4 linked regions of the Homo sapiens genome follow. The protein of the gene in region 1 interacts with the protein of each later gene in a pairwise test. Each region holds a gene or a part of one and is shown on either strand. Other genes may lie near its edges.

Region 1 (7,298 bases):
TGATGGACCAGGGTGAGGACTTGGGGGCCAGGGGAGAATGAGTTGCTGACCTTACAGGCCAATAAACCAATGAAGTAACAAAACAAAAGATGGATGAACTCATAGATTACTTGAACTACAGTAGTCCTCCCTTATCTGTGGTTTCACTCTCCATGGTTTCAGTTACCTGTGGTCAACCGGGTGGGAAAGTATTAAATTGAAAATTGCAGAAATAAACAATTCATAAGTTTTAAATTACGTGCATTCTGAGTAGCGTGATGAAATCCTGCACCATCCCACCCAGGATGTGAATCACCTCTTTATCTAGCAGATCCACACTGTCTACGCTACCGCCCATCACTTAGTAGCCTGCTCAGTTATCAAACAACTGACTCAATATCATAGTGGCTGTCTTCAAGTGACCGCCATTTTACTTAATAATGGCCCAAAAGCACAAGAGTAGTGTTGGTGGCAATTCGGACATGCCAAAGAGAAGCTGTAATGTGCTTCCTTTAAGCAAAAAGGTAAAAGTTCTTGACTTAAAAGAAAATCATATGCTGAGGTTGCTGAGATCTACTGTAAGAAAGAATCTTCCATCTTTGGAATTGTGAAGAAGGAAAAATAAATTCATGCTAGTTTTGATGTCATACCTCAAACTGCAAAAGTGATGGCCGGAGTGCATGATACGTGCTTAGTTAAGACGGAAAAGGCATTACATTTATGGGTAGAAGACAAGAATAGAAACATGTTCCGACTGATAGCAATTGGGTTCGGTACTATCTATGGTTTCAAGCATCCACTGGGGGTCTTGGAACATGTACCCTGCAGATAAGGGGGGACTAAAGACTAAGGGAAGACTAATGGAAGACTCTGTGATAAAGTACAGAAGGAATCAAATGACTGAGGAGGGGATGGGAGGTGGGACACCCAGTGGGTGGGCGTGGGGCTGCCACACTCACCCCTTGATGAGTCGGTAGACCACACAGCAGTCCTGATTTAGACCCCGCACCTTCAGGGCCTTGTCTAGAGAGTCGTAGACACTCATGCCATCCCGGACAGTCACCTGTGTGTATGTGCAGATGTAGGGGTCCTCAATGCCCAACAGAAGCGCAGCTGATGTTCCCATCCTTCTGCAAAGGCCTCCCCCAACCGTTGTCACCCTTTTGATCCCAGAGTTACAACTGGGTCCATCCACAGCCCCTGCCATTTCGCTTCCATGACTCACCACCGTGCGTTGCTTGTTGGGCAGGTATACTTTGACGGTGCCCACTGCCCGGGATGGCTCGGCCCCATTGGCAGGGGGGCCCCGTGGTGGCTCCATGGAGCCTTAGATTTTGTCAAGATGGGCTGAGGTGGGGCTGGGCAGGTGCCATGGGGCTCCTACAAGAAGGCAGACAAGAATTCAGAGGTCCAATAATGATAGTCTAGAAGCAAAGTGGCAGGGGACAAAATAAAATTCAAAGTCCAGGCTCCTGTCGCCCCCTGCAGCCTAATTTTCACACGACAGTCCAAGAGATCCTGCTCACATCTGAAGTCCTTCCAGTTCCTTCTCTGCTCAGGCCCTCCTGTTGCTTGTCTCACTCTTGAGTGCCAAGGTCTCAGCTTCACTGCACAGGGTTGCGGGGGAGAGAACAGGGAAGGGGGACAGAGCATACTGTCTTGGAGGGTAGAGGAGCACACAAGACTCTGTGCTGGGGACCAATGGGGAAGTCAGTACACACTGCACTGAGCCGTCAGGTACATAAGAAGCACGAACAGAATGTCCTGGGTTTTTTTTTTTTTTTTTTCTGTTTTTTTTTTTTTCTGACAGAGTTTCGCTCTTGTTGCCCAGGCTGGAGTGCAATGGCATGGTCTCAGCTCACTGCAACCTCCACCTCCCAAGTTGAAGCCATTCTCCCGCCTCAGCCTCCTGAGTAGCTGGAACTACAGGCGTGTGCCACCACGCCCGGCTAATTTTTTGTATTTTTAGTAGAGACGGGGTTTCACCATGTTGGCCAGGCTGGTCTCGAACTCCTGACCTCAGATGATCCACCCGCCTCAGCCTCCCAAAGTGTCCTGGTTTTTTAACAGAGAACGGGGGAAATGCCAGTTACTGTGGTGAGGGAGGAGTCGCAGGCACGGTGATGGGAAAGAGAGGATTATCAGATACTGCCCTTAGTTTGGGGAAGATGGAGGTTGCACCAAACATGTCCTTAAAGGGCACTGTGGACATCCCTAAGCCCTGGGGTGTAATGTTGATGTTAGGACCACAGACACCGTTGTTAGGTGGCTAATGGAAGTCCCAAGCCTCTATGATGAGGAATTCATGGGGGGGGGGGGTCACTACATACTATGCGGAAGGGAGATGTAACAGGCGTCACTAGGGACTGTAATGGGGAGAAGGGTGGAAATGGAAATGACCAGACATTGAGCCGAACTGGGGAGGTAATGGTGGACCACCAGACATTGTCATAGCAAAAGGAGAAGGAAGGTATGGTGTTGCGGGGAGAAAAATGGAGGTAAAGAGGGAGCTCCAAAATTCTCCTTGACAACCTGTGAGGGGTCACAGGCATATTACTGGTCTAAACTGAATGAGGGATCATGGAAGGCGGTTACAGAGGCGAGAATCCTGACATTCTCCCGGCGGGGGCGGTCAGACACTGATCCAGAATAAGGAAACCGGGGAGTGAACCGCGTTTCCACACACTCCCCGCAGTTGGTAAGGAAAGGTCATTGGACACCTTAGCGGGGGTTAAGACGGAATCCCGGCACCACTCGGTCGGGTCCCGCCTACCAAAGGGCTTCCGGCTCTGCGCAGGCGCACCACCACTAGCAGCGGGCGAAACCATCACCCGCAGCCTTGCCCGCCTATTCCTGTTACCCACCCCACCCCCGCTGTCGACGATGGTCTCGCCCCGGGTCAAACCACTCCTCCGGTTCCGGGCAGGGAACGCCGGGGCCCAGGCGCAGCCATCCTGGAGCTGAGCTTTCGGTCCGGGCTCCCTGCCCGTGCCCGGCAGCCGCTCCAGAAACCGAGCCCTCCCGGGCCCGCCCTCACCTGTCACGCCGCTACAGCCGCCGCCGTCTCCATCTTGGGCCTCTCTTCTTGTTTCCTCACAGAGTCCGCCTCCGTCGCCTCTCGGACTCTCGTTATTGGCTCTGCGGGACTCAGCCTTCCACCCTTATTGGGTCAGGGTCACGTCTGTCAAGGCAAGACCAACGGAATGTGAGTCGTGTTCCGGATTAGGAGGGGCCGCCTGAAACGTCAAGATCTGGGGCAAGCGCTCGTCCTGACTCGCGCAGGCGCAGTTGAGGCAAGACCTGCGTGCCTAGGGCTTTAACCCCAACAGTGGCATAGACGTATAAAGCAGAACACAGGTCATTTGGGGCTGACCTTAGGGCTTTGGCATCTGGGCGGAGAAATCCTTAAGTACCCTTTTTGGGCCAGTGCCCTAAGCACCCTTTTATGATTTTCCCGTGTCTCAGTTTTTACCATCTTTGAAATGGGTTGGAATCAGAACCAATGATCGGCGATGTTCACCAGCTCTAGGAGACTGTAGTTCATAGCCTTTGAGGACAGCGGGTCTCTGGTGTGGCGGGGGCTGGGGGACTGGGCCTAGGAGGGGCGGCCTGCTGTCTGGGAGGCTTCCTTTAGGAATGGGGTTGATTAGGACTATGAAAAACTAGTCACAGGTGGCCAGGTGAAGAGGGAAGTGCGGACCTGGAAGGGAGCACGATGCCAGTCAATGTGTGGAGGTATTGTGGGGTAAACACAAATTTTTAAAGATCGAATTTTCCCTGGTGTCAAAAGAGAAAGACGTCTCTCTTAGAGCATTTCCTTTAGAAAACTTGTAACTGTAAAATTTTCTCTGTCCCTTTGAGATGTATGTAAGTCCTTTTAAAAGCTAAATCTCTTGCCAGTTTTACATCCCCGGAATGTTTTTCTTAAGAGCCTTGTAGCCATCTCTTTGAAATGTAAACATCAATGAAAATAGCACCCCTGTCTTTCCCTGTCTTCGTGGGAATTTGATCTGCGTGCCTGGCTTCAAGTTATTACCTGCTTGTCATAGAGATATGAGTTTTCGTTTTCCTTTGGATAAAGGCAATTAACTAACACAGATAGCCACCCTAATTACCAGGTGAATTTGGGATGAAGTATGTGTACCAAATGGTGCCGTCAAGTTTCTTGAGCACAAGTTATTGTTTGAGAATATGTTTGTAATGGGCTGTATCTGCCTGCTACATAAACGGATGAGATTTCTTTCTGTCTTTGAAACCTCTTTAGCAGATTGTTTGTGATGTGCATCACAGTCTGGTGTAATGCTTATTCAGTTATAAAACTTTCCATTCCTGCCGGGTGCGGTGACTGATGCCTGTAATCCCAGCACTTTGGGAGGCCAAGGCGGGCGGATCACTTGAGGCCAGGAGTTCGAGACCAGCCTGGCCAACATGGCAAAACCCCGTCTTTACTAAAAATGCAAAAAAAAAAAGTCAGCTGGGCGCGGTGGCGCGCGCCTGTAATCCCAGCTACCTAGAATGCTGAGGCAGGAGAATCACTTGAACCCAGGAGACAGAGATTGCAGTGAGCTGAGATCACGCCACTTGCCACTTGCACTCCAGCCTGGGTGACAGAGTGACCCTGTCTCAATAAAACAAAAAACAAAAAAAAACTTTTCATTCTTGTCTACTTTGTGGAGAGGATTCATTGGGTTGGCACGAGATTCTCTTTTTAATTATTTCCCCAACACCATGAATGGCCTGTTGTGTTTCAAGTGACTGCATTCTCCTGTTTGGAGATTTAGCATCCTTTGGCAATGTAATGGGAAAGATCAGAGGAAGGTCATAGGTGAGGGGGGGCCTCAACATATTTCAATCTGTATTTATCACATGGCTTTCTCTGTCTATAAGAAGGAAGACAGAAGTTCTGCCTACTGGCCTCCCATATAATTTCCATTTCCCAACTCCCCTTTTCTTTTCTTTTCTTTTCTTTCTTTTTTTTTTTTTTTTTTTTTTTTGAGACAGAGCCTTGCTCTGTCACCCAGGCTGGAGTACAGTGGCAAGATCTTGGCTCACTGCAACCTCCGCCTCCTGGGTTCAAGTGATTCTCCTGCCTCAGCCTCCTGAGTAGCTGGGACTACAGGCGCCCACGACCATGCCTGGCTAATTTTTATATTTTTAGTAGAGACGGGATTTCACTATGTTGGCCAGGCTGCTCTGAAACTCCTGACCTCAAGTGATCTGCCCACCTCGGCCTCCCAAAGTGCTGGGATTACAGGCTTGAGCCACCACACCTGGCCCCAACTCCACTTTTCTATTCGGATCTTCACCATTTAATGGCTAAAAAAATTTTTTTTTTTTTTTTAGAGACAGGATCTCACTATGTTGCCCAGGCTGGTGTCGAGCTCCTGGCCTCGTTCTCCCAACACTCTAGGATTACAGGCATGAGCCACCATGCCCAACTCCAATGGATAAAATTAAAAAGACTGACAATACTATGTATTGATGATAATGTAGAGCAATTGGAACTTTCATACATTGCTATTGGGAGTGTAAAGTGGCACAAGCACTTTAGAAACAGTTTGGCAGTTTCATATAAAATTAAACATAGACCTGCCATGCAATCAATCCAGCAATCTCACTCCTAGGTATTTACTCTAGAGAAATGAAAACACATGTCCAATGGTGTGCTGGTAAATGTTTGACAACCAACGCTCCAGGAAGAAAACAGCTCTAATTTGTACTGTCCCCATGGCTTATTTCAGGCTACCAATATGACAGTCGCTGAACCAGATTTAAAAGAGATGCACAAAATCCGCTCTGGTGAGCCAGCTACAACATGCTACTATTACAATATGTCTGCACAAAAACTTGTATGCAAATGTTCAGATTAGCTTTTTCTTAATAGCAAAAAACTGGAAACAGCCCAGGTGTCCAGAAACAGAACTGACAAAAAAATACAACAATGGGATTATGGAATACTACTCAGCAATGAAAGGGAATAAATTACTGACATATAGGAAGAGCATAGATGAATCTCGTAGACATGGGGCAAAATGAAAAAAGCCAGACACAAAAGAGAAATACTGTATTCCACCCATATGAAATCTAAACCAGGCAAAACTAATCTATAGTGAAGGAAATCACATTAGATGTTGTTTTGAGGGAGAATGACTGAGAAGTGCATTAAAGAACTTTTGCAGGTGATTGGAATGTTCTGTATGCATTTGTCAGAACTCATTGAACTCTATTTTTATTATTATCTTTTTTTATTTTTGAGACAGAGTCTGGCTCTGTCACCCAGACTGGAGTGCAGTGGCACGGTCATGGCTCACTGCGCCTTGACCTCCTGGGCTTAAGTAATTCTCCCACCTCGGCCTCCCAAGTAGCTGGGATTACAGGCATGCACCACCACACTCAGCTAATTTTTAAAATTTTCTGTGTAGATGGAGTCTCACTATGTTGCCCAGGCTGTTCTTAAACTCCTGGGCTCAAGTGATCCTCCCACCTCGGCCTCCCAAAGTGCTGGGATTACAGGCATGAGCCACCTTGCCCAGCCTCATTGAACTCTACACTGAAAATGGATATATTTTGCTTTATGTGTAATATACCAGAATAAGAACTGCATGGCAAAAAAAAAAAAAAAGAAGAAGGCCACAAACATAATTCTAAACATTTGTTTCTTAGAAATTCTTATTGGTTAGAGAAATTATTTTGAAAAAATTCTTTTTTCTGAAATTAAATCCCTAGACCCTGAATCTCCATCTCCCACTGCAGGAGCCCTGGCAAACACCTCAGTGCCAGTGGGGTCAGGAACAACTCCTGTTTGGAGCTCAGTGAGGGGCTTTGGGGAGGGGAATAGGGGAGTGCATTTTACATTTCAATTCACTTAAATATTTAATTTGTTTAAAAACTTTAATTTCTAGGCAGTATTTGAAGACAGACCTCTGGCTCCATCGTTCAACGTTTACAAAAAGATGAGAAAAATGCCAGCAAAAGCTCATTGCTTTTGCAGGATGGGGGAAGGAGGGGAAGGGTAGGGGACATAGCCCACTCAAAGGCAATGCTTTCTCCCCCAAGGACTCATAGACTCACTTCACACCCATCTCAACTGGCACTTCAGCCAAGTACCTTACAGGTACCTGACACTTTAAAGCATGAAGTCCTTTAAAGTGATTTAGGTTTGGTTTTCTTTTGTTTTGCGACAGAGTCTCGCTCTGTCACCCAGGCTGGAGTGCAGTGGTGCAATCACAGCTCACTGCGGCCTCGACCTCCTGGGCTCAAGCCATCTTCCCAGAAAGCTGGGACCACAGACGCATGTCACAGCGCCTGGCCTTTTTGAC
Region 2 (7,327 bases), on another chromosome or scaffold:
AGGAAAAAAATAAATAAATAAAATACACTACAGGGGATTTGGAAGCACATCCTTCGTGGAGAACATTGTCATAGTAGGATTTGCAAGCTCTTAAAGCCCACTAAAGCCAGGCAGGTAACAAATGGGTGGTGTGTGATAGAAGAGTGCTGGTGACCCTGATGAACAGGAGGATCTTAAGTTTTCTAAAACGCAGTCAGTATTTAGCTTTAGCTAGTTGTTGCCAGATAACGCCAGTCCAGTGTTGCTAGATATTCCACTTAATTTTTCCAAGAAGAGTTAGAAATACTGATTTATTTGTGACATACCCTATTTTTAAATATCGGCAACCAATTCAAAATTTACACAAAAAATTTGAATTGTAGGCCAAAACATATGCGCTGGCTAGATCTGGCTCTGAATCTGCCTGTTGAAATCTCTTGACAACACTTTAGCCAAACAAAAGCTTGATTTAAGTCAAAATGATGCAGTCAACAGCTCTCTTGACTGGCAGCATCACACTGCTTCTGCGATGTGAGGCTCTCCGGGGTTCTGGATAACACCCAGCTTGGCATGGAGCAAAGTGCTCTGAGCAGGGGAGTCAGGAGACCTGTTTCCTAATCCCTGCTAACAACTTGCTAGGTGACATTGGGAAAGAAATTCTCTCCCTTGTCACAGGATTTCTTTCTATAAAGTAAGGGGGATGATCTCTATTGTTCTTTCCAAGGTTCTAGATCATTCTTTTTCATGAAAATGTATGTACTTATTATCTGTCAGCTACTTGAAAAGGAAACTTTTCAGATTAAGTTGAAAATTCACCTTTAATTGGCTTGAGTGACAACTAGTTCTTCCTCTCCCATATTCTCCTGTGTCTTCAGTGATTTGTGTTTGCATGGAAGTTTCTTTCTGCTGTATGCTTTTGGGGGTATTTTCTAAGGGAAAGAGCTCATTTTGGCATAGAAAGTCTGGGCGGGGTTGAGCATATGGACTTCTCATTTGCTGAATACTACGTTTGAGTCAAATAAAAAAAATAAAGGAATAGAGTTAATATAGGGAACATTCTGAAGTATAAAGCCACTTCCTTGAACTTCACAGTTCAAATGAAACCTTGCAATTGAATCTTTTTTCCTTGTAGCTTCACTGAGACATAATACAGACACAATAAAATTCACCCATATAAAGCATACAATCCAATGTTTTTAGTATATTTACAGAGTTGTGCAATCAACACCACTATCTAATTTCAAAACATTTTCAACTCCTCAAAAAGAAACTCAATACCTACTATTGGTTGCTGTAATCCTGCAACCACAAATCTGCTTCCTGTATCTATAGATTTGCCTATTCTGGACCTTTTATATAAATGGAATTATATAATATGTGGTCTTTTGTGTCTGTCTTCTTTCATTTAGCATAATGTTTTCAAGGTTTATCCATGCTGTAGCATGTATCAGGACTTCATTCCTTTTTATTGCCAAATAATATTCTATTGCGTGGCTATACGACATTTTTTTGTTTATCCACTCATCAGCTGAGGGACAACTGAGTTGTTTCCACTTTTTGGCTATTATATATAACATTCACAAACAAGTTTTCATGTGAATATATGTCTTCATTTCTCTCAGGTACAGATAAGTAGGGGTGTAATTGTCAGGTTGTTGGTAACTCTACATTTAATCTTTTGAGGAACTGACACATACAGTTTTCCAAAGCAGTGGCATCATTTAACACACCTACCAGCAGTGTATGAGGGCTCCAGTTTCTTCACATCTTTGTCAACACTTACCTGTCTTTTTAATTTTAGTCATCCTCGTGTGTGTGAAGCAGTATTTCGATGTACTTTTTTTTGAGACAGGGTCTCGCTCTGTTGCCCAGGCTGGAGTGCGGTGGCCCCGAGCTCGGCTCACTGAAACCTCCGCCTCCCAGGTTCCAGCGATCCTCCTGCCTTGGCCTCCCAAAGTGCAGGGAATACAGACATGAGCCACAACAATTTTGTTTTGCTTATGATTTTGTGGGTCAAGTATTCAATAAGGGTCGGGAGTGATGGCTCATGCCTGTAATCCCAGTACATTTTTTTTTTTTGAGACGGCTCTGTCGCCCAGGCGGGAGTGCAGTGGTGTGATCTCGTGATCTCACGATCTTGGCTCACTGTAACTTCCGCTTCCAGCGTTCAAGCAATTCTCCCACCTCAGCCTCCGGAGTGGCTGGGACTATAGGCGTGTACCACGCCCAGCTAATTTTTGTAATTTTTTGTAGAGACGGGTTTTGGCATGTTGGCCAGGCTGGTCTGGAACTCCTGGGCTCAAGCGAGCAATCCGCCTCCCTCGGCCTCCCGAAGTGTTGGGATTACAGGCGTGAGCCACTACAATTTTATTTTGCTCATGATTTTGTGGGTCAAATATTCAAGAAGGGCCGGGAGTGATGGTTCATGCCTGTAATCCCAGCACTTTTTTTTTTTTTTTTTGAGCCCGCATTGTCGCCCAGGCGTGGGTGCAGTGGCGTGAACTTGGCTCACTGTCACTTCCGCGTCCCAGGCTCAAGTGATCCTCCCACCTCAGCCTCCGGAGTAGCGGAGAGTACAAGTGCACGCCACCACTCCGGACTAATTTTTGTATTTTTAGTAGAGATGCGTTTAGCCATGTTGGCCAGGTTGGTCTGGAACTCCTGGGCTCAAGCGATCCGCCCGCCTTGGCCTTCCAAAGTGCTGGGATTACAGGCATGAGCCATTGCGCCCAGCCATCCCAGCACTTTGGGAGTTCGAGACTAGCCTGGGTAACATAGAGAGACCTTGTCTCTTAAAAAAAAAAAAATTACCTGATCTTGATGGCATGTGCCTGTAGTCCCAGCTGCTAGGGAGGCTGAGGTGGAAGGATCACTTGAGTCCAGAAGTTGGAGGTTGCAGTGGGCCATGATTGTGCCACTACACTTCAGCCTGGGTGACAGAGGGATCTTGTCTCAAAAAAGAAAAAAAAAAGATTTTTAAAAAAGGAATTCAGGATGGGCTGGCCTGGATGGGTATTTTTGCTTGGGGTCTCTCACGCAGTTGCATTCAGATGCTAACAGGGGATGCCGTCATTGGAAGGCTCGATTAGGCTGAGTGTCCAAGATGTCTCACTTAGATGGCTGGCAGGTGATGCTGGTGATCTGGTGGGAGCTCAGTGGGACTTTTTTTTTTTTTTTTTAAATGGCATGTTGCTCCTGGCCATCAATCAGACTTCGACTGGCATGCCTACATGTAGCCTCTTTAGCATGGCAGTCTTATGATAGTCAAACTTCTGACTTTGTTCCTCCCGGAGTGAGAATACCAAGAGAACAGCTGCATGGCCTCTTCTGATCTAGCCTGGGAAATTAGGCAGCATCTCTTCTGCTGCATTCTACTGGTTCCAAATGAGTTACCAAGTGAAGTCCAAGAACTTGCAGTCATGTTCCAAGATTGCTGTAAATGCTTCCTGTGTAGCAGCACTGTTTTATGTGCTCATTTAATTCTTATTAAAAACCCCATGAGGCCGGGTGCAGTGACTCACACCTGTAATTCCAGCACTTTGGGAGGCCGAGGCGGGAGGATTGCTTGAGGCCAGGAGTTCAACCCCTCGCACTCACACTCCTCATATCCAATTACTGCACATTTGTCACACATAAACATAGCCACTATGACACTGTACTGACACATACAAAATCTGTCACATTCCGTCTTGCCCATGCAAGCTCAATCACTGACTTATTCTCCATGCTCAGCCACTGTCCCATTCTTCACACTGTCACAACCACCAGCCCATCACACACTCAATTACTGTGACACAGCTCTAATCCTCAATCACTGTCACATACTGTTTTTCACACAAATATGGTCACCATCTGTACTCTTAAAGCAGGGTATGTACTCTCCTATAAAATTGAGTTAATATGCCAACAGCCCTATTTTTCGCACACGCCGTCACATATTGTATTTTTCATCCACACAATCCCTTACATAGACAATTAGGGTGACACACTCTTTCTGCCTTCGTCCCACTCCCAACTGACACCCACTCCCACACTCTCACGCACTCGCTCACTGGCTAGGGATTAGAGCGGTGTGTCCGTGGGGGTCTGAAGCCCGGGTTACCTCCCGAACCTCAGCCCCAAGCGGCGCGGCCCCGCCCCTCCCCGCCCCCTCATGCATATGCAGCACCTCAGCCTGGCAGCCCGGCCCCCAGACGGCCATTTGTGGCGGCGCTGGAGGCTGCGTTCGGCAGGCGCTGCGGAGACGCGTAGAGGAGCGCGCCCCCCGGCCGCTGCCGCCCCTGGCCCGTGCCGTCACCCCGCTTCTCCGCGCCTCGGGCGGTACCCAGCCAGTCCCCAGCGCCGCGCTACCGCGCTGACCGGCCCTCCAGACGCCTCCCGGTACCCGGGACCCCAGCCCGGCCGCTCGCCCGCAGCCCGCCGGCCGCACACGTCCCCGGAGCCGGGCCTAGGGCGGGCGGCAGCGGCGGCTCGGCGCAGTCAGGCTGGGCTCTGTAGCGTCCCCATGGCCGCGGCCGGCTGGCGGGACGGCTCCGGCCAGGAGAAGTACCGGCTCGTGGTGGTCGGCGGGGGCGGCGTGGGCAAGTCGGCGCTCACCATCCAGTTCATCCAGGTACCTGGAGCGGGCCTGCCCGGGGCGCCGGAGCGGCGGCGGGCGGGGGCTGGCGCTACCTGTGGCGGGGCGGCCGCCGCGACCTCGCCCCAGAGGCGCCTCGCGGGCCCGGGCCGGGGCCAGGGGGCGGGAGGGCGCGGGGCCGACTACGCTCCTGCCCTGCGGCCGCAGCGTCGCGCTCCTGCCTCCTCCCGGGCGCGGCGTCGCGGGAGTAGGGCTTCTCAGGAATGTGGTCGGGAGGGCGGAGCTGGAAGGGTGGGAAGCACCGATCCACCTTATTGCTCTGGCCGAGGCCAGAGACCTCCGGGAGAGGCTGGGCCACCGAGCCGGGCTTTACTGCTCCGAGGGTCCGGGCGTGGGGCTGGAGCTGGAGCCCCGCGCGCTGCTTTTCCAGCCGCCTGCGGCCGCGCCTTCACCGTCGGGGCGATAGCGGTGGCAACTTGGCCGCGGCTCCGCGTGGTCTCCGGGCTTCCCCGCGCCGCCTGAGCCGGAGCTGCCCGCTTCAAGTACTGTGTATTTCTTTGTGTGTGTGTTACGCTCTTTTTATAAGTACTCTCTTAGGTAATATGTCCGGGTGGGAGTGTGTGATAATGCCCCGGGGAAATGGTGGCTTCTAGGAAGTTAAAAATGTTCTCTGATGGGGTGAGACCATTTCCTAGGAATTCCTGATGCCGTCCTGCTTCTCGCCGTGCCTAGGTGAAGTTTGGGATGGGCCGGGCTAGGATATGACCGAGTCGTGCGTTCTGTTTTCTAACCACCCTCTCCCCTACCCCCAGCCCTCTCTGGTTGCTAGAGACGGTAAGTCAGGGGTTTGTGGTAAAGAAAAGGGAGGTGGTATTCTTCCTTCTTAGAATTTGCTCTTGGGGAGAGGTTTGAGTAGTCTTTTTTGGGATTTTTAAAACACAAAGCCCCGATGTCTTTCTGCTTTTGTCAACCTAAAAGGTGTGGCATATGCTGGGAGAGAACGAAGGTACCCTGTTATAACAGGAAACAAGGATATTTTTCACAGTATCTAGAGTATGAACGGTGAAATATTTTTGTCTGGTTTCCTTTTCACCCATTTGTCATTAATTGGGATACCTGAATAGCTTATTTCACTTAGTGTTTATAGTGACATTAAAATATTGAGTACTGTAACAAATGTGATTGTCACCTTTCACATTGAGTAAATGAGCAATAATTGCTGCTATAATATTCCCTGGATTACTGCTGCTAAAACCTTTGAATCCAGGAAGAAAGGATGTTTTATGTAATGAGCATTTACAGTATGCTTATTAGTGGGTTAAAAAAATCACTGAGTAAGGGGTGAGATTGGTTTAAGTTTAGCAGGCTACAGAATCAGGGATGCTGTCAGGTTGCTATTTCCCTAGGGCGCAGAGAGATTGTACGTATCTAATGGCAAAGCAAAACAATTTATAGCTAACCCTTTGGGGACTAGTCTGATGGCTGAGGGAGGGTGGGGGTGAGGGGATAAGTGGAGGAGAAGTCTAGGAGTGGGAGAATAATCTTGGGTTACAATATTGGTAGTGTTATTTAAAAGATTTGAACCACAAATATTTACGTTTTTTTGAGGAAGGGGCCATCTGAATTATTTGAGCCCATGTTAATTAATTAAGGTGTTGGGCCTTTTTGTTTTGGGGAAGTAATGGTATTAAACCATTAAGAAAGCGGTAATTGGGCCTGGCGTCGTGGCTCACACCTGTAATCCCAGCACTTTGGGAGGCCGAGGCGGGTGAATCACGAGGTCAGGAGTTCCAGACCAGCCTGGCCAATATAGTGAAACCCCGTCTCTACTAAAAATACAAAAATTAGCCGGGCATGGTGGCGCGCGCCTGTAGTCCCAGCTACTCTGGAGGCTGAGGCAGTAGAATCGCTTGAACCCGGGAGGCGGAGATTGTAGTGAGCCGAGATTGTGCCTGGGCAACAGAGCGAGACTCTGCCTCAAAAAAAAAAAAAAAAAAGCATTAATTGCCGTTTTCCTAATAATTTATAGAATCATTTGTTGAAGAAATACCTCCACTGTGAATAGTATAGTACCTGGATGCTCTAGATGATATTAAAGAAGTAAAGGAAGCAGGTATGTATGAGGAAGACATATGTGTACATAAAGAGTATGAACCTTGAGTCTTACAGACTTGAGCATGTGTGTCTTTTAAAGCTCTGTCATTTATCGGCTGTGAGAACATGGCCAAAATACTCAGCCTCTCTGAGCCTCAGTTTTCTCGCCAGTAAAATGGGTCTGATTACACATTCTTTATAACTTTTATGACAAAGATGGTAGCATTGTATCCAGCATGTTGTATGTGCTCAGTAATGGTAGGTGTTATCAGTGTTTATGCCTACAGTTCTGTAACATGTTTAAATGCAAAGGGAATTCAGACTCAGAGAAGTCTGTGGAAAAAATTGATGAAAGCATTATGTAGGCTTGGTGGTGGGGAGAATGGAAATGTCATATGTGGGAGTCATATGCTAGTTTGGAGAGAGGAGGTGGCAAGTGGGGAAGTGGGATTGATAGTTGATTTGGGACCTGTGATCTGGTCTCTGCAAAAAGGAGCCTTTTTGGAGAGACAGGAACCCGACCACCTGGATGCAGTCTCAGCTCTACCACTTGCTGCATGTGTAATTTTAGGCAGGTTACTTAACTTCTCTGTACCTTAGTTTTCCCCATCTGTAAACTGGGGAAATATGGTGGACCACATATAGCTGTGAAATTAAATGAGTTAACATGTCAAGGGC
Region 3 (7,273 bases), on another chromosome or scaffold:
AAATGAAATTGGTGGGTCCAGAAAGCCACCTGTTTATGCTGGGGGATGTTTGCAAACAGTCATGTTAATACATTGATTGTTTCAAACTGGGCAGTTGTAGAATCATGCTGGCTTCAACAAATCAGTATGCTGATTTAAATTGGGCAGGTACATCTGCAGTTTTAAAGTGTATATGTTTACTAGCCTAACTGGTTTCAATATTGTGGTTTATTTTTATTTTTATTTTTTTTTGAGACATAGTCTTGCTCTGTTGCCTAGGCTGGAGTGCAGTGATGCAATTTTGGCTCACTGCAACCTCCACCTCCTGGGTTCAAGCATTTCTCGTGCCTCAGCCTCCCGAGTAGCTGGGAGTACAGGCGCACACCACCACACTCAGCTAATTTTTATAGTTTTAGTAGAGACAGGGTTTCACCATGTTGGTCAGGCTGGTCTCGAACTCCTGACTTCAGGTGGTCACTCGCCTCAGCCTCCCAAAGTGCTGGGATTACAGGCTTGAGCCACCACTCCTGGCCCAATATATTGTGTTTTTTTTAAGAGGCAGGCCCATGTATTGCACTAAAAATACTGTATTAAAGTAGGTAGCCTTGTAAGTTTACTGTTTTATACTGGATTCATTAGCCGGGAGTGGTGGCCTGTGCCTGTGGTCCCAGCTACTCAGGAGGCTGAGGTGGGAGGATCACTTGAGCCTGGAAGTTACAGGCTGCAGTGAGCTGTGATCCCGCCACTGCACTCTAGCCTGGATGACAGAGTGAGTCTCCATCTCTAAAAAAAAATAAGTTAAAATGAGAAAGTAAACTGGAGTCAATATATTCACTTAAACCAGGGTTTTTCACCCTTGGCCCTATTGACGCTTTGGACCAGATAATTATAGAGGACTGCCCTGTGCATTGAAGGATTTTTGCAGCATCCTGGGCATCTGCCTACTAGATGCCAGTATTGCGATAACCGGTTATATCTCCCGGCATTGCCAGATTTCCCAGGGGTAGGCAGATAGACAAAATTGTTCCTAGTTCTGAACCACTGTTTTATGGTATATGGATGTGTTTATATATTTATTGTGGTTTAGATTCAGCACACTGGATTAAAGTGGGCAGATCTGGAAGCCTAGTGATTCAAAGTGGGCAAAATACAGTGGCATAAATTAGGTGTGGTGGCTCACGCCTGTAATCCCAACACTTTGGGAGGCCAAGGCGGGAGGATCACTTGAGCCCAGGAGTTCAAGACCAGCCCGGTCAACAGAGCAAGACCCTGTCTCTATTAAAAAAGTATGTATACCCTGGTGTAATGTCAGCAGATTTACATGTATGTGGGTTTTGTTTTGTTTTTTTTTTTTCTGAGACGGAGTCTTACTCTGTTGCCACGCTGGAGTGCAGTGGTGCAATCTCGGCTCGCTGCAACCTCCACCTCCCGGGTTCAAGTGATTCTCTTGCCTCAGCCTCCCAGGTAGCTGGGACTACAGGCACATGCCACCACGCCCGGCTAATTTTTTTTTTTTTTTACTGTTTTAGTAGAGACAGAGTTTCACCATGTTGGCCAGGATGGTCTTGATCTGACCTCGTGATCCGTCTGCCTCGGCCTCCCAAAGTGCTGGGATTACAGGCGTGAGCCACCGTGCCCGGCCTTGTATGTGGGTTTTAAGTGGGCCAATGTAATAAGCATTCTGTTTCATACCTGGGGTAGTATGTGGATATAAGTATCAGCTTAAAATAGGGCAAGTAAATAAATCTGTGTTCCTATCTGGCGGTATGTCATTGCCTTCTATCTTTGGACCTAGAAATGAGTTGGTTCAAACCAGGCAGATATGCAGACCTGTTTGTATCTGGTAGATAAGAAACCCCTGGTTTGTCTGGGAGGTTGAACAGCGGCTTATTGTGGAATCTCTTTGTGCCTGGTGTTCTCCTAGATCCAATTCTGGTACAGCAGTTGCGCCGGACATACAAATATTTCAAAGATTATAGACAGGTGAGCAGAAGCCCTGGGCTCAGTCCCCATGTCTCCAGCCCTGGCCTCCTTGTCTGAGCGCCCCCATCCTGTCCCTCTCCCACAGATGATCATCGAGCCCACCAGCCCTTGCCTTCTCCCAGACCCTCTGCAGGAACCGTACTACCAGCCACCCTACACGCTCGTTTTGGAGCTCACCGGCGTCCTCTTGCATCCTGAGTGGTCGGTGTGTCCCGGGAAACCCAGTGGGTTGGGGATAGACCTGGGCAGTGGGGTTGTGATGAGGTGGACTTTCAGCCCTGGCTGTGCTATGTGATCTTGGGGAGGAGATGTCACCTGTCATTGCCTCGCTTTCTTCAGCTGGGAGAAGGCAGTCATGCTAACACCCACTCTGTAGGGTAGTGTAGGTGTGCCCAGGCACGCTATAAGTGCCACAAAGGAGCCAGACCCGCAGTCACAGCCTATGAACTTCTTGACCTCCAAGAGCCACAGAGACAGAGGGAGAGAACTCTGTTCTGGGAATCCCCCAGGCTGGATCTTTGTCCTCTTGGGGACTCTGAGGACCTCTGGGTCTTGGTGTTTCACTGTCCTCACTGTCTTCCCAGCTGGCCACTGGCTGGAGGTTTAAGAAGCGCCCAGGCATCGAGACCTTGTTCCAGCAGCTTGCCCCTTTATATGAAATTGTCATCTTTACGTCAGAGACTGGCATGGTGAGGCTCTGGGGCAGGGGAGGGAATATTGGTGTGGTGGGAGGCGTAGAGATCTGGAGGACCAGGGCTCAGCCTGACCTTTTCTCGCTCCCTTCCCACCCCCAGACTGCGTTTCCACTCATTGATAGTGTGGACCCCCATGGCTTCATCTCCTACCGCCTATTCCGGGACGCCACAAGATACATGGATGGACACCATGTAAAGGTGCCGTGGGTTCATGGGTGGGCCTCTGGGATTTGGCGGAGTTGGCACCACCTGAGGGAAGGAGGGCCCAGCTCTGACCCTAGCCTCACCTGGCTTATGGTTCTGCCCAGATTCGATTCCTGCTGGCAGGCACATGCCTGCCTCTAGCCTTGGCCAGACATCTGCACCCTTCTTTGTTCCCTGGAATCTGGGTGTGGGAGTGGGGGGAAATGGGGTCTCTCTAAAGAAGACAGTTGGGGGTTAGTGGTAAGGTCGTACGATTTAGAAGCTGGTTTTATCTTGCTGTGTCTGTAACTTAGTGTTTCTGGGAAGGTTTGCTTATAGTTGTACATATGAGACTGGTTGGGGTTTGTTTGACCCGGGCTCTGTTACTGTGGCCAGTGCTGTATTCAGGAGTCCGGATCTGCGAATGGGCCTCTGTGGGTCTGGCTCCAAGTGTCTGTGTGTCTGTTGGTTTCTGTCTGTGTCGTGTCGGGGTGGGGGTTCTGTGTTGCTCTTGGAAATTCCAAAATACGTGGGCTGTGATCGAGGGTCTTGAAGGGTCTGTGTCTGGGTGCCTGTCTGTGTGGTTCCCTGGGTGTGGCTGCAGATCTGTCTGCACCTGTTTACTTGAGTGAGAGGTTCTTAAACCTGCAACATACCACAGTCACCTGGGCAGGGGTTAAACACGAGAGTGGCCACCTCCCTCTCCAGGGAACTTCCTAATCACCTCTCTGTGTGCTAGGCCCTGGGTCTAGAAGTCTATGTGATTAGCTCCCCAATATCCTGGGGGTTGTTTTGTTTTTTGTTTCTGAGACAGGGTTTTGCTCTGTCACCCAGGCTGGAGTGCAGTGGTGTGATGAACATGGCTCACTGCAGTCTCAACCTTCTGGGCTCAAGCGATCTTCCCACCTCAGCCTCCTGAGTAGCTGGGCCTATAGGCACACACCACCATGCCTGGCTAATTTTTATTTTTATTTTTATTTATTTATTTTTTTTGTGAGACGGAGTCTCGCTCTGTTGCCTAGGCTGGAGTGCAGTGGCGCGATCTTGGTTCACTGCAACCTCCCCCTCCCAGGTTCAAGCGATTCTCTTTCCTCAGCCTCCCGAGTAGCTGGGACTACAAGCACACACCACCACACCCAGCTAATTTTTTGTATTTTTAGTAGAGACAGAGTTTCGCCATGTTGCCCAGGCTGGTTTTGAACTCCTGAGCTCAGGCAATCTGCCCACCTTGGCCTCCCAAAATTCTGGGAGTACGGTCGTGAGCCACCGCACCCGGCCATTTTTTGTATTTAGTAGATACGGGGTTTCACCATTTTAGCCAGGCTGGTCTTGAACTCCTGACCTCAGGTGATCCGCCCGCCTCGGCCTCCCAAAGTGCTGGGATTACAGGCGTGAGCCACCATGCCTGGCCCTCTGTGGGGGTCGATGCCATCATCCAAAGCCGGTCTTTGAGAGGCCCTGCCATTGTGATCCCAGTATGTGTGATGCTGTGTATGTATGTATGTTTTGTGTGTTTTGGGTCTTCTTGATGGGGGGAGAGTTGGGCACAGATGTTGACCTGATCTGTCACTCACTTCCAGGATATTTCATGTCTGAATCGGGACCCAGCTCGAGTAGTAGTTGTGGACTGCAAGAAGGAAGCCTTCCGCCTGCAGCCCTATAACGGCGTTGCCCTGCGGCCCTGGGACGGCAACTCTGATGACCGGGTCTTGTTGGATCTGTCTGCCTTCCTCAAGAGTAAGGCTGACCCCTGATCCCTTGGCCTCTGACCCCAGAGCCCCTGACTCTGAAGAGGAAGGATAAATGCATGATTCATGGCTGGGCGACTGAGGTGCAAGAGGTGCCTGAGCACCTTGGAGTCTTTAGGAGCTTCTTAGGATGTTCATGGAATGTTTGGGGGATACTTGGGGATGTTCAGGGGAGCCCTTTCAGAGCGTTCAGAAGCATTCCAGGTAGCACTGACTGCCCCCGTGCCCCAGTGCGGGACGTTCCCCTCATGGGCCCTGCCTCCCTCTGGCCTTTAGAAGCCTGGCTGACCACCCCCTGTTGTGCCCACAGCCATTGCACTGAATGGTGTGGAGGACGTGCGAACCGTGCTGGAGCACTATGCCCTGGAGGATGACCCGCTGGCGGCTTTCAAACAGCGGCAAAGCCGGCTAGAGCAGGTTGGTGCTCAGATGCCCAGAGTGGAGGATCGGCTCTGAGGCTCCTGAAGGAGGAGCCTGGGGCAGTCCATCTCCACACTCTTGGTTTGGCTGTGTGACCCTGAGCAGATACCTCCTCTCTGCCTCAGTCTCTGTAACCAGGGGGATATAACACAGCCTGTCCTGTAGGGCTGCCAGAATGAGGGGATGCATTGATTCTGCAGCCTGCTCTGAGAACAGGAAACAGGAGAGGATTTGAGATTAGGCTGGGAGAGGGGTTGCCCTTGATGGTCTTGAGTAGGTCTGGGGGCACCTTGTGGAGGTGGATTGTGGGTTTTAGATCAGGCCTGGAAAGAGGCTCCCTGGGCACGTGGCCCAAGGCTGTGGGGAGAGATGTGATAGTCTTGGTGGGACCCTGGTAATTTGGAAGTGGGACTGAGAGTATGGATTGCGTCTGGGTAAGATTCCCAGGGGTCTAGGCTGAGGTTCACCAGATTCTAGGTTAGGTTCCTAGAGTTGGGAGCCCCTGAGTGCCCAGAGAAGTCCCTAGAGATTTGGGCCTGGGGACCCCCCAGGGAACCCCCCACCCCTGCATCCAGAGAGGGGTCATGGGGCTCAGAGGGCCCAGGGGCAGGATGATGCAGTCTGGTGAGGAGGGCCATGGGGTTTGGACCTGGGATCTCACCAGCATTCACCTTGGGGTAACAGGGTCTGCGATAGGATCTCAGGCTCAGGGGAGGGGTCCCTGGGATCTGGGGAAGGAGATTATGACAGTCTGGGGCCTGAGAACCTACTGCAGTTCAGGCCTGAATACCTCGAGTGCCTAGTATTGGAGTCTGTCGTCCCCCAAACATTGAAGCCTAGGCTCCTGCGGCTCAGAGCTGGCTCTTCCTAGTGTCTGGGGTGGGGGGACTGGGGTCTAGGGTCCCTTGTGTCTGGGCTGGGGGCCCCAGGGTTTGGGGAAAGGGGTCTGGACTTGGCAGAAGTCAGAAGGAAAGGTGGTCCCTGGGCTGAGGCCTGGGGACCTGGGCATCTGGGAGGAGGCTCTGTCCACCTTGCGCTGACCCTCTCCTCCAACTGTCCCCCTACCCCAGGAGGAGCAGCAGCGCCTGGCCGAGCTCTCCAAGTCCAACAAGCAGAACCTCTTCCTTGGCTCCCTCACCAGCCGCTTGTGGCCTCGCTCCAAACAGCCCTGAACTCTGGGCCTCCTCAAACTCAGTGCCTGGGTCCAGGGCCCCAGTGCTTCCAGACCAAGACTTGGGCCACCACTTGTCCAATAAAGTACATCCCAGACGCCACACCTGCTGTGTCCCGAGAGTCTCCAGATGGGGGCATCAGGGTGAGGTCCGGGACTCTTGGGTCATCGTCCCACAGTGGCTGATCGGCTGCCAAGCACAGTGGGGGTGCTTTGTTGGATCAGAGCAGATTTTTCACCCTGGTCTCGGAATCTAAAAACCCTCGCTGTGTCTTCCTGTGTGTTGCGTGATCTGTGAAAAATACATCTCCCTCTGACCACAGACTCCTCATCTGTGGAGAAGGGAAGAGAGGATGGCACTTGGCTTTAAAGACAGGTAGCTGCCAGGCTACTGTGGAGAGAATGTGTTATGGGCCTAGTGGGCCTCTGGTGGACCAGAGATTACCCCTCTCAACAGGCCAGCTGCTGGTTGGCTCCAGCCAGTGTGGCCCTGGGGTAAAGGGGGCCTGGAGTTGCTTGACACGCCAGTTGTTCAAAAGAAGCAAGAACTTGGGAATATTTTTTTTTTTTTTTTGAGACAGGGTCTCACTGTTGCCCAGGCTGGAGTGCATTGATGTGATCTTAGCTTACAACAGCCTTGACCTCCCGGCTCAAGTGATCTCCAAGTGACCCTCCTGCCTCAGCCTCCTGAGTACCCTCCTGGGGACTACAGGTGCGTGCTACCATACCCAGCTAATTTAAACAAATTTTTTTTTTGTAGAGATGGGGTCTTGGTGCCCAAGCTGGTCTCAAACTCCTAGTCTTAAGCAATCTTCCTGCTTTGGCCTCCCAAAGCGCTAGGATTCCAGGTGTGAGCTACTGTGCCCAGCTAAAATAGGGATTTTTATATTAAATCTCCCTATTTTAAAATGTTGGCTCCTAGCGGGGCGCAGTGGCTCACGCCTGTAATCCCAGCACTTTGGGAGGCTGAGGTGGGTGGATCACCTGAGGTCAGGAGTTCAAGACCAGCCTCAACATGGAGAAACCCCATCTCTACTAAAAATACAAAATTAGCTGGGCGTGGTGGAGCATGCCTGTGATCCCAGCTACTCAGG
Region 4 (7,273 bases), on another chromosome or scaffold:
CTTCCCTGTGACCTCTGCCCGTGGGTACCTCACCAAGCATAGCTGTTTCCTTTTCTAGAAGATAGCCCTTTGATCATTGGTACAGAGTCACCTTGTCACAACCAGACCTCAGTTTCTCCTGGTCATTCCTCTTCAACTGTGCTTCTGTTGGTGTCTCAGCATCGTGAGGACAGAAGCCCAAAACCTGACTCCCTTCCCCAGACCTGTACATTCGGGCAGCGCGTACATTCTGTCTCCCTCTCTCTCTGCGCCCAGAGCCTCAGCTCAGCTGCCTCCTTGGAGGCAGCTACCTACCTCTCCAGTCCTGTCCTGGGGCCATCGTGGGTGTGGGACAGGACCTGTGACTCTTTCCCTTTCTTGTCTAGTCCCCCGCCACACACTCACTCCCATGGTTTGTAGCCCAAGAGTCTCTGGTAGGGCTGCGATAAGGTTGTGTGGTCCTGGATGATTTTACTTAGAACCTGGGTTTCCCCTGGAGAAAGGCTGGCCAGGGTGGCATCTGAATGGGACTGCAGCCTGCTGACAGGAGGCCTGGCCACCTGTCCTGGGGAGCAGCACTGGGCTTTTTTTTTTTTTTAAGATAGGGTCTCACTCTGTGGCCCAGGCTGGGGTGCAGTGGCACTATCACGGCTCACTGCAGCCTTGAACTCCTGGGCTTAAGCGATCCTCCCACCTCAGCCTTCTGAGTAGCTGGGACCACAGGTGTGTGACTCCACGGGGCCTGAGCACCAGGCTGGATGCAGCTTTCTCTTGTAGCTTGACAGGAGCCAGGGAGGGGGATCCCACCTGGAGCTGGTATACCCAACACAGCTGTGGAAAAGTTGACCACAGGCGGCCCCTTCCGCCTGATTGGATTATTGTATGATCATTCATTAAACTGTTTCTCTGTTGTTTTTTTGAAACAGAGTCTCACTCTGTCGCCCAGGCTGGAGTGCAGGGGCGAGATACCGCTCACTGCAACCTCCACCTCCCGAGTTCAAGCAGTTCTCCTGCCTCTGCCTCAGTAGCTGGGACTACAGGCAGGCGCCGCCACACCTGGCTAATTTTTGTATTTTTAGTAGAGACAAGGTTTCACCATGTTGGCCAGGCTTGTCTCGGACTCCTGGCCTCAAGTGATCCGCCCACCTCGGTCTCCCAAAGTGCTAGGATTACAGATATGAGCCACTGTGTCCAGCCTGCTTTTTTTTTTTTTTTTTTGAGATGGAGTCTCATTCCATCACCCAGGCTGGAGTGCAGTGGCACAATCTTGGCTCACTGCAACCTCCGGCTCCTGGGTTCAAGTGATTCTCCTGCCTCAGCCTCCTGAGTAGCTGGCATTACAGGCACCCACCACCACGCCCAGCTAATTTTTGTATTTTTAGTAGAGACGGGGGTTTCACTATGTTGGTCAGGCTGGTCTGGAACTCCTGACCTCAAGTGATCCACCCACCTTGGCCTCCCAAAGTGCTGAGATTACAGGCAGGAGCCACTGCGCCCGGCCTTGTTTTGCTTTCACAAGGCTTTATCTTTTGAGCAGTTTTAGGTTTACAGAAAAATCCAACAGAATGTCCAAAGAGTTGCCATGCCCCTCCTCTCCCATCTGGCACACAGTTTTCTATTCTTCACGTCCTGCATTAGTGTGGAGCATCTGTCACAATTGACAGGATGTTGATACATTATTATTAATAAATGCATGGTTTACCTTCCGGTTCCCTCTTGGTGGTGTACATTCTCTGTGATTACAGTATCATAAGAGTAGTTTCACTGCCCTAACATTTTTCTGTGTTCCCCCCTACTCATCTCACCCTCTTCCTACCAAACCCCTGGCAACCACTGATCTTTTACTGTCCCCTTAGTTTTGCCTTTTCCAGAACGGTCTATAGTTGGAATCAGACAGTATGTAGCCTTTTCAGATTGGCTTCTTTCACTTAGTGCAATATACATTTAAGGTTCCTCTGTGTCTTTTCACAGCTTGAGAGCATATTTCTTGCTTGTTTTTTAAATTATTTTATTTTATTTTATTTGAGATGGAGTCTCGCTCTGTCACCCAGACTGGAGTGCTGTGGCATAATCTTGGCTCACTGCAGCCTCTTCCTCCTGGGTTCAAGCAATTCTTGTGCCTCAGCCTTCTGAGGAGCTGGGACTAAAGGCACACACCACCATGCGCAGCTAACTTTTGCATTTTTAGTAGAGATGAGGTTTCACCATTTTGGCCAGGCTGGTCTCGAACTCCTGACCTCAGGTGATCTGCCCGCCTCAGCCTCCCAAAGTACTGGGATTACAGGCGTGAACCACCGCGCCCAGCCTGTTTTTTAAATAGGGTGCTGTGTTGCCCAGGTTGGTCTTAAAACTCATGACCTCAAGCAATCCTCCCTCCTCAGCCTCCTAAAGTGGCTGAGAGCTCATTTTTTTTTCAGCACTGAATAATATTCTGTTGTCTGGATATACCACACTTTTATCACCTGCTGTTTCTTTGTTTTTTATGATTATTATAAAAGAGATAGCTAATCATCATTAAATGTATATCAACCGAAAAGAGAACATTTAAAAAAATCCCTGAGTCCCTCTGTGGGGCATTTCATTCTATGTTCTACTATGTTCTTTAAATTTTTTTTCTTGTACATTCTTTCTAGTCCAAATCATATTCTTCTGGAAACAGAAAAGGCTTTCTGTCCGGCTTGCTAGATAATGTCAAACAAGAATTAGCCAAAAACAAAGAAATGAAAGAAAGTATAAAAAAATTCCGTGACGAGGCCAGAAGGCTAGAAGAATCAGACGTGCTCCAGGAGGCCAGAAGGAAATACGTGAGTTTCTTTGCTGCTTTTTTTTCCCTCACCCAGGCTGGAGAGTAGTGGTGCGATCTCGGCTCACTGCAACCTCCACCTCCCAGGTTCAAGTGATTCCCCTGCCTCAGCCTCCTGAGTAGCTGGGCTTACAGGCGCGCACCACCACGCCCAGCTAATTTTTGTATTTTTAGTAGTGAAGAGGTTTCACCATGTTGGCCAGGCTGGTCTCGAACTCCTGACCTCAAGTGATCCGCCCGCCTCAGCCTTCCAAAGTGCTGGGATTACAGGCGTGAGCCACCGCGTTGGGCCCCTTTGCTTCTTACCTTTCTTGGTTGACATGTTTGTTTCCAGGGCCAGGGTTTCTCCAGGCCAGGGACAGCCAGAGGAGCTCAGGGCTGGACGGTTGGGGGCAGGGTGGCTCGTGAGGAAGTGAGGTCACTGCTCTGATGCACTAATGAGAGGGAGCCAGGGGACAGGTGCGGGTCTCCAGGCCTCTGGGTTCTGCCATGAGACCATGCAGCGTTCTGTGCAGCTTGAAGCGTGGTCCCCAGACCAGCAGCAGTGGCTCCTCCTGGGAGTGGATGAGCAGTGCAGAGGCTCACACCCTCCCAAACTGCCAGGCCAGCGCCCGCATCTTCACAGGCCCCCAGGCAACGCATGCACACCAGCTATGGGATGCAGCGCTCCTGAGAGCTCCCAGCTGTAGCCCTCTGAGTGGAGCCTGGTGGAAACTGGGTGATGGTGCTGGTATTTTATTTTATTTTATTTTATTTTATGAGATGGAGTCTTGCTCTGTCATCCAGGCTGGAGTGCAGTGGCGTGACCTTGGCTCACTGCAACCTCCAGCTCCTGATTCTCCTGCCTCAGCCTCCCGGATAGCTGGGATTACAGGCGCCCGCCACCACACCCAGCTGATTTGTTGTTGTTGTTGTTGTTGTTTTTTGAAGCAGAGTCTTACTCCATTGCCCAGGCTGGAGTGCAGTGGTACGATTTTGGCTCAACACAACCTCTGCCTCCTAGGCTCAAGCGATTCTCCTGCCTCAGCCTCCCGAGTAGCTGGGATTACAGACACACACCACTACTGCCCAGCTAATTTTTGTATTTTTAGTAAAGACAGGGTTTCACCATGTTGGCCAGGCTGGCCTTGAACTCCTGACCTCAAATGATCCACCTGCCTTGGCCTTCCAAAGTGCTGAGATTACAGGTGTGAGCCAGTGCGCCCAGCCCTATATATCTTTTTATAGAGACGGGGTTTCACCATGTTGGCCAGGCTGGTCTCAAACTCCTGGCCTCAAGTGATCTGCCCGTCTCAGCTTCCCAAAGTGCTGGGATTACAGGTGTGAGCCACTGCTCCCAGCCTGTCATTATTAATTGTCACTTCTCTTCTTGAGCAGCTGCCAAGCCCTGGCTTCTGGGAATGGCTCTGCATTCCTTTATTTGTAAGGGCCCTGCGAGGCAGTTACAGTGTCCCCATTTTACCAATGAGCAGCTGAGCCTCAGAGATGCAGGCACCTGCCACGGGTCCCTTGCATTTTGGTTTGGTTTGGTTTCATTTGTGTTTTTTTGTTTGTTCGTTTTTTGTTTTTCTCCTTTGAGATGGAGTCTTGCTCTGTCAGCCAGGCTGGAGTGCAATGGTGCGATCTCGGCTCACTGCAACCTCCGCCTCCCTGGGTTCAAGCGATTCTCCTGCCTCAGCCTTCCAAATAGCTGGAATTATAGGCGCCCACCACCACGCCAGGCTAATTTTTGTATTTTTAGTGGAGACGGGGTTTCATCACTTTGGCCAGGCTGGTGTTGAACTCCTGACCTCAGGTGATCCATCCGCCTTGGCCTCCCAGAGTGCTGGGATTACAGGCATGAGCCACCGTGCCCAGCCTAGTTTGGTTTTTTGAGACAGGGTCTTGCTCTGTCACCCTGGCTGGAGTGCAGTGGTGTGATCACAGCTCACTGCAGTTTTGACCTTCCCATGTTCAGGTGATTCTCCCACCTCAGCCTCCTGAGTAGCTGTGACTAAAGGCATGGGATACCACGCCTGGCTAATTTTTTTATATTTCTAGAGACAGGGTCTCGCCATGTTGCCTGTGCTGGTCTCGAACTCTCTGGGCTCAAGCGATCCTCCCATCTCAGCTTCCCAAAGAGCTGGGACTACAGCTCACATGCCCAGCCCCTCTTTATCATTAATGCAGGGGTCATCTGAAGACATAGCAGGCTGAGTTTGGAGTGGGATGGATGGAGCGGGAGACATAAGACCAAGCTGTGGTGGCTGGAGGCTGGATGAGGGGCACAGTGATGACAGGCAAGGCCACCTCCTACCACCCGGTGAAAGGTGAAGGCTGGGCCTCCTGTTCTCAGGAGGTAGCTGCCAAGCGGGGACCCGAGTCTGCCGGCCTTCTGAGCAAGGAGCTCACCGCTGCTGAGACCCTCAATCCAAGCCATGTGGGCAGCCGGGGGCCCTGGAGGCAGCACATGCTGGCAGGTGCGGGGAGGGAGGGGCTGCGGAGAAGATGCTTCTTGGACCTTTGGCTGTAAGAGAAATGTCACTGCCGTGTCAGAACATACAGACTTAAAGACACAACGGTTGGCCAGGCACAGTGGCTCACACCTATAATCCCAGCACTTTGGGAGGCCGAGGCGGGTGGATCACTTGAGGTCAGAAGTTTGAGACCAGCCTGGCCAACGTGGTAAAACCCTGTCTCTACTGAAAATACAAAAATTAGCCAGGCATGGTGGTGGGCCCTGTAGTCCCAGCTACTCGGGAGGCTGGGGCAGGAAAATCGCTTGAATCTGGCAGGAGGAAGTTGCAGTGAGCCGAGAGCGTGCCACTGTACTCCAGCCTCGGCAACGGAGACATTGTCTCAAAAAAAAAAAAAAAAAAAAGGACACAGCGCTCTTTACCTAGAAAACCATCGAGTCAGAAACCGTGCGGACGAGCGAGGTGCTACGGAAGAAGCTTGGGGAGCTGACGGGCACCGTGAAGGAGGTAACAGTTCCACGCCCGCCTGGAGCCGCTGGGGCCATCAAAGTCCCCTGGCCGCTGGAGGCTGGAGGAAGAGTCGGCTCCTGGGTGGGGGTGGCTTGGCAGCAGTGGGTGGCATGGGGCGTGCTGCCACCCTCGGGAAGGTTTCAGGAGTTCCCGGCACATGCAGGGTGAGGTCAGACTGGCAACCTTGCATGACCGTTGACCCAGGGAGTCGGCAGCAGTAAGTGCTGCTAGCCAGGACTCGAGGAGAACATGAAAATGTTTTTCCTGCCTAAAAATAGGAGGAGAGGGGCCGCTTCCACCCCCTCCCGAGGGTAGAGGCGGGAGGCAGGATTCCTGGGGTGCTGCGGCTCTCCTCGGTTGTCTGTTCTGTCCAGCTTTGCGCAGCATGGGGCGCCCTCACCGCCGTTCTTTCCCCGGGGTCCCCTCCTTGGGAATCCTTGCTGCCAGGCAGTTCCCGGGTCTCCAGAGGACTCCTGCCCATTTTGGAAAGGGGCCAGCAGACCCAGCGTCTCACCCAGAGCCCAGGGCCAGCATCCCGGAAGCCGTGGCGGTGTGCTCATGGCTCTGGGGGTGCCGGTGTGCTCATGGCTCTGGGGGTGCCGGTGTGCTCGTGGCTCTGGGGGTGGCGGTGTGCTCGTGGCTCTGGGGGTGCCGTTGTGCTCATGGCTCTGGGGGTGCCGCGTACCACAGGAGCACAGAAGGCCTCTGCCGGCCTCGGGGAACCAGATCCGCCCTTCTCTCCGGCAGGAATTCATTCCTCCTGCCCCGCCCCCCGGCCGCCAGGGCCGGTGCCAACGCCCCCTCTCTGTGTCTGTCTCAGTAGAGCCTTCACGAAGTCAGTAAAAGTGATCTCGGCCGGAAAATCAAGGAGGGCGTGGAGGAAGCAGCCAAGACGGCCAAGCAGTCGGCCGAGTCGGTATCCAAAGGCGGGGAGAAGCTGGGCAGGACAGCGGCCTTCAGAGCCCTCTCCCAGGTGAGCCCAGTCCTGGGCTAGGGCATGCAGCCTGGGGCGGCCGAACCCAGACACCCACCCCAGCCCCGCTGTGCCTCCCTCGCAGGGGGTGGAGTCCGTGAAGAAGGAAATTGACGACAGCGTCCTGGGACAGACCGGGCCCTACCGGAGGCCCCAGCGACTCCGGAAGAGAACGGAGTTTGCGGGAGATAAGTTCAAGGAGGAGAAAGTGTTTGAGCCAAACGAGTAGGTACCAGCCCGTGGCCCTCGCTGCCCCCATTTTGGGCAGCTTTCACTGCTGTCCATTTCGGGAGCCCACCAATGGTTCCCTCCTGAGTCCGTTTCTTGAGTTTGCCTTCTGCCCAAGGTTCCCGGCTCCCTCGAATTTGAGGGTGAGAGGTGAGGGCGGGGTCCTCAGAGCCCCTAGGTTTGAGGTCTCAGCTGCCTGCTGTCCTGTACTGCCCCCTGCCTGCAGCCGCAGGAGGGCACAGGGTGGCCCTGGCGCCGCCGCTCACCCCAGGGCCCACCCTCTTCCCCAGGGAGGCCCTGGGGGTCGTGCTGCACAAGGACTCC

What was found.
Region 2: the proteins of ARAF (region 1) and RRAS2 interact in binary tests that used the Homo sapiens proteins (3 or more experiments, as listed by UniProt).
Region 3: the proteins of ARAF (region 1) and TIMM50 interact in binary tests that used the Homo sapiens proteins (3 or more experiments, as listed by UniProt).
Region 4: the proteins of ARAF (region 1) and TIMM44 interact in binary tests that used the Homo sapiens proteins (3 or more experiments, as listed by UniProt).

Annotation. Positions count from the first base shown.
Region 1 is NC_000023.11:47,556,970-47,564,267, reverse strand, and holds the start of ARAF (serine/threonine-protein kinase A-Raf), read right to left. Parts: upstream 3,064-7,298; 5' UTR 3,017-3,063; exon of another isoform or gene 2,829-3,016; intron 1,360-2,828; 5' UTR 1,301-1,359; coding exon 1,205-1,300; intron 1,043-1,204; coding exon 939-1,042; intron 1-938. UniProt on the Homo sapiens protein: Involved in the transduction of mitogenic signals from the cell membrane to the nucleus. May also regulate the TOR signaling cascade. Phosphorylates PFKFB2.
Region 2 is NC_000011.10:14,356,027-14,363,353, reverse strand, and holds the start of RRAS2 (ras-related protein R-Ras2), read left to right. Parts: upstream 1-4,170; 5' UTR 4,171-4,483; coding exon 4,484-4,591; intron 4,592-4,886; exon of another isoform or gene 4,887-5,116; intron 5,117-6,649; exon of another isoform or gene 6,650-6,668; intron 6,669-7,327. UniProt on the Homo sapiens protein: GTP-binding protein with GTPase activity, involved in the regulation of MAPK signaling pathway and thereby controlling multiple cellular processes. Regulates craniofacial development.
Region 3 is NC_000019.10:39,483,641-39,490,913, forward strand, and holds part of TIMM50 (mitochondrial import inner membrane translocase subunit TIM50), read left to right. Parts: exon of another isoform or gene 1-1,150; intron 1,151-1,606; exon of another isoform or gene 1,607-1,736; intron 1,737-1,903; coding exon 1,904-1,962; intron 1,963-2,047; coding exon 2,048-2,167; intron 2,168-2,546; coding exon 2,547-2,651; intron 2,652-2,756; coding exon 2,757-2,855; intron 2,856-4,420; coding exon 4,421-4,577; intron 4,578-4,898; coding exon 4,899-5,005; intron 5,006-6,078; coding exon 6,079-6,180; 3' UTR 6,181-7,273. UniProt on the Homo sapiens protein: Essential component of the TIM23 complex, a complex that mediates the translocation of transit peptide-containing proteins across the mitochondrial inner membrane. Has some phosphatase activity in vitro; however such activity may not be relevant in vivo.
Region 4 is NC_000019.10:7,933,537-7,940,809, reverse strand, and holds part of TIMM44 (mitochondrial import inner membrane translocase subunit TIM44), read left to right. Parts: intron 1-2,612; coding exon 2,613-2,783; intron 2,784-5,664; coding exon 5,665-5,745; intron 5,746-6,571; coding exon 6,572-6,721; intron 6,722-6,806; coding exon 6,807-6,946; intron 6,947-7,239; coding exon 7,240-7,273. UniProt on the Homo sapiens protein: Essential component of the PAM complex, a complex required for the translocation of transit peptide-containing proteins from the inner membrane into the mitochondrial matrix in an ATP-dependent manner.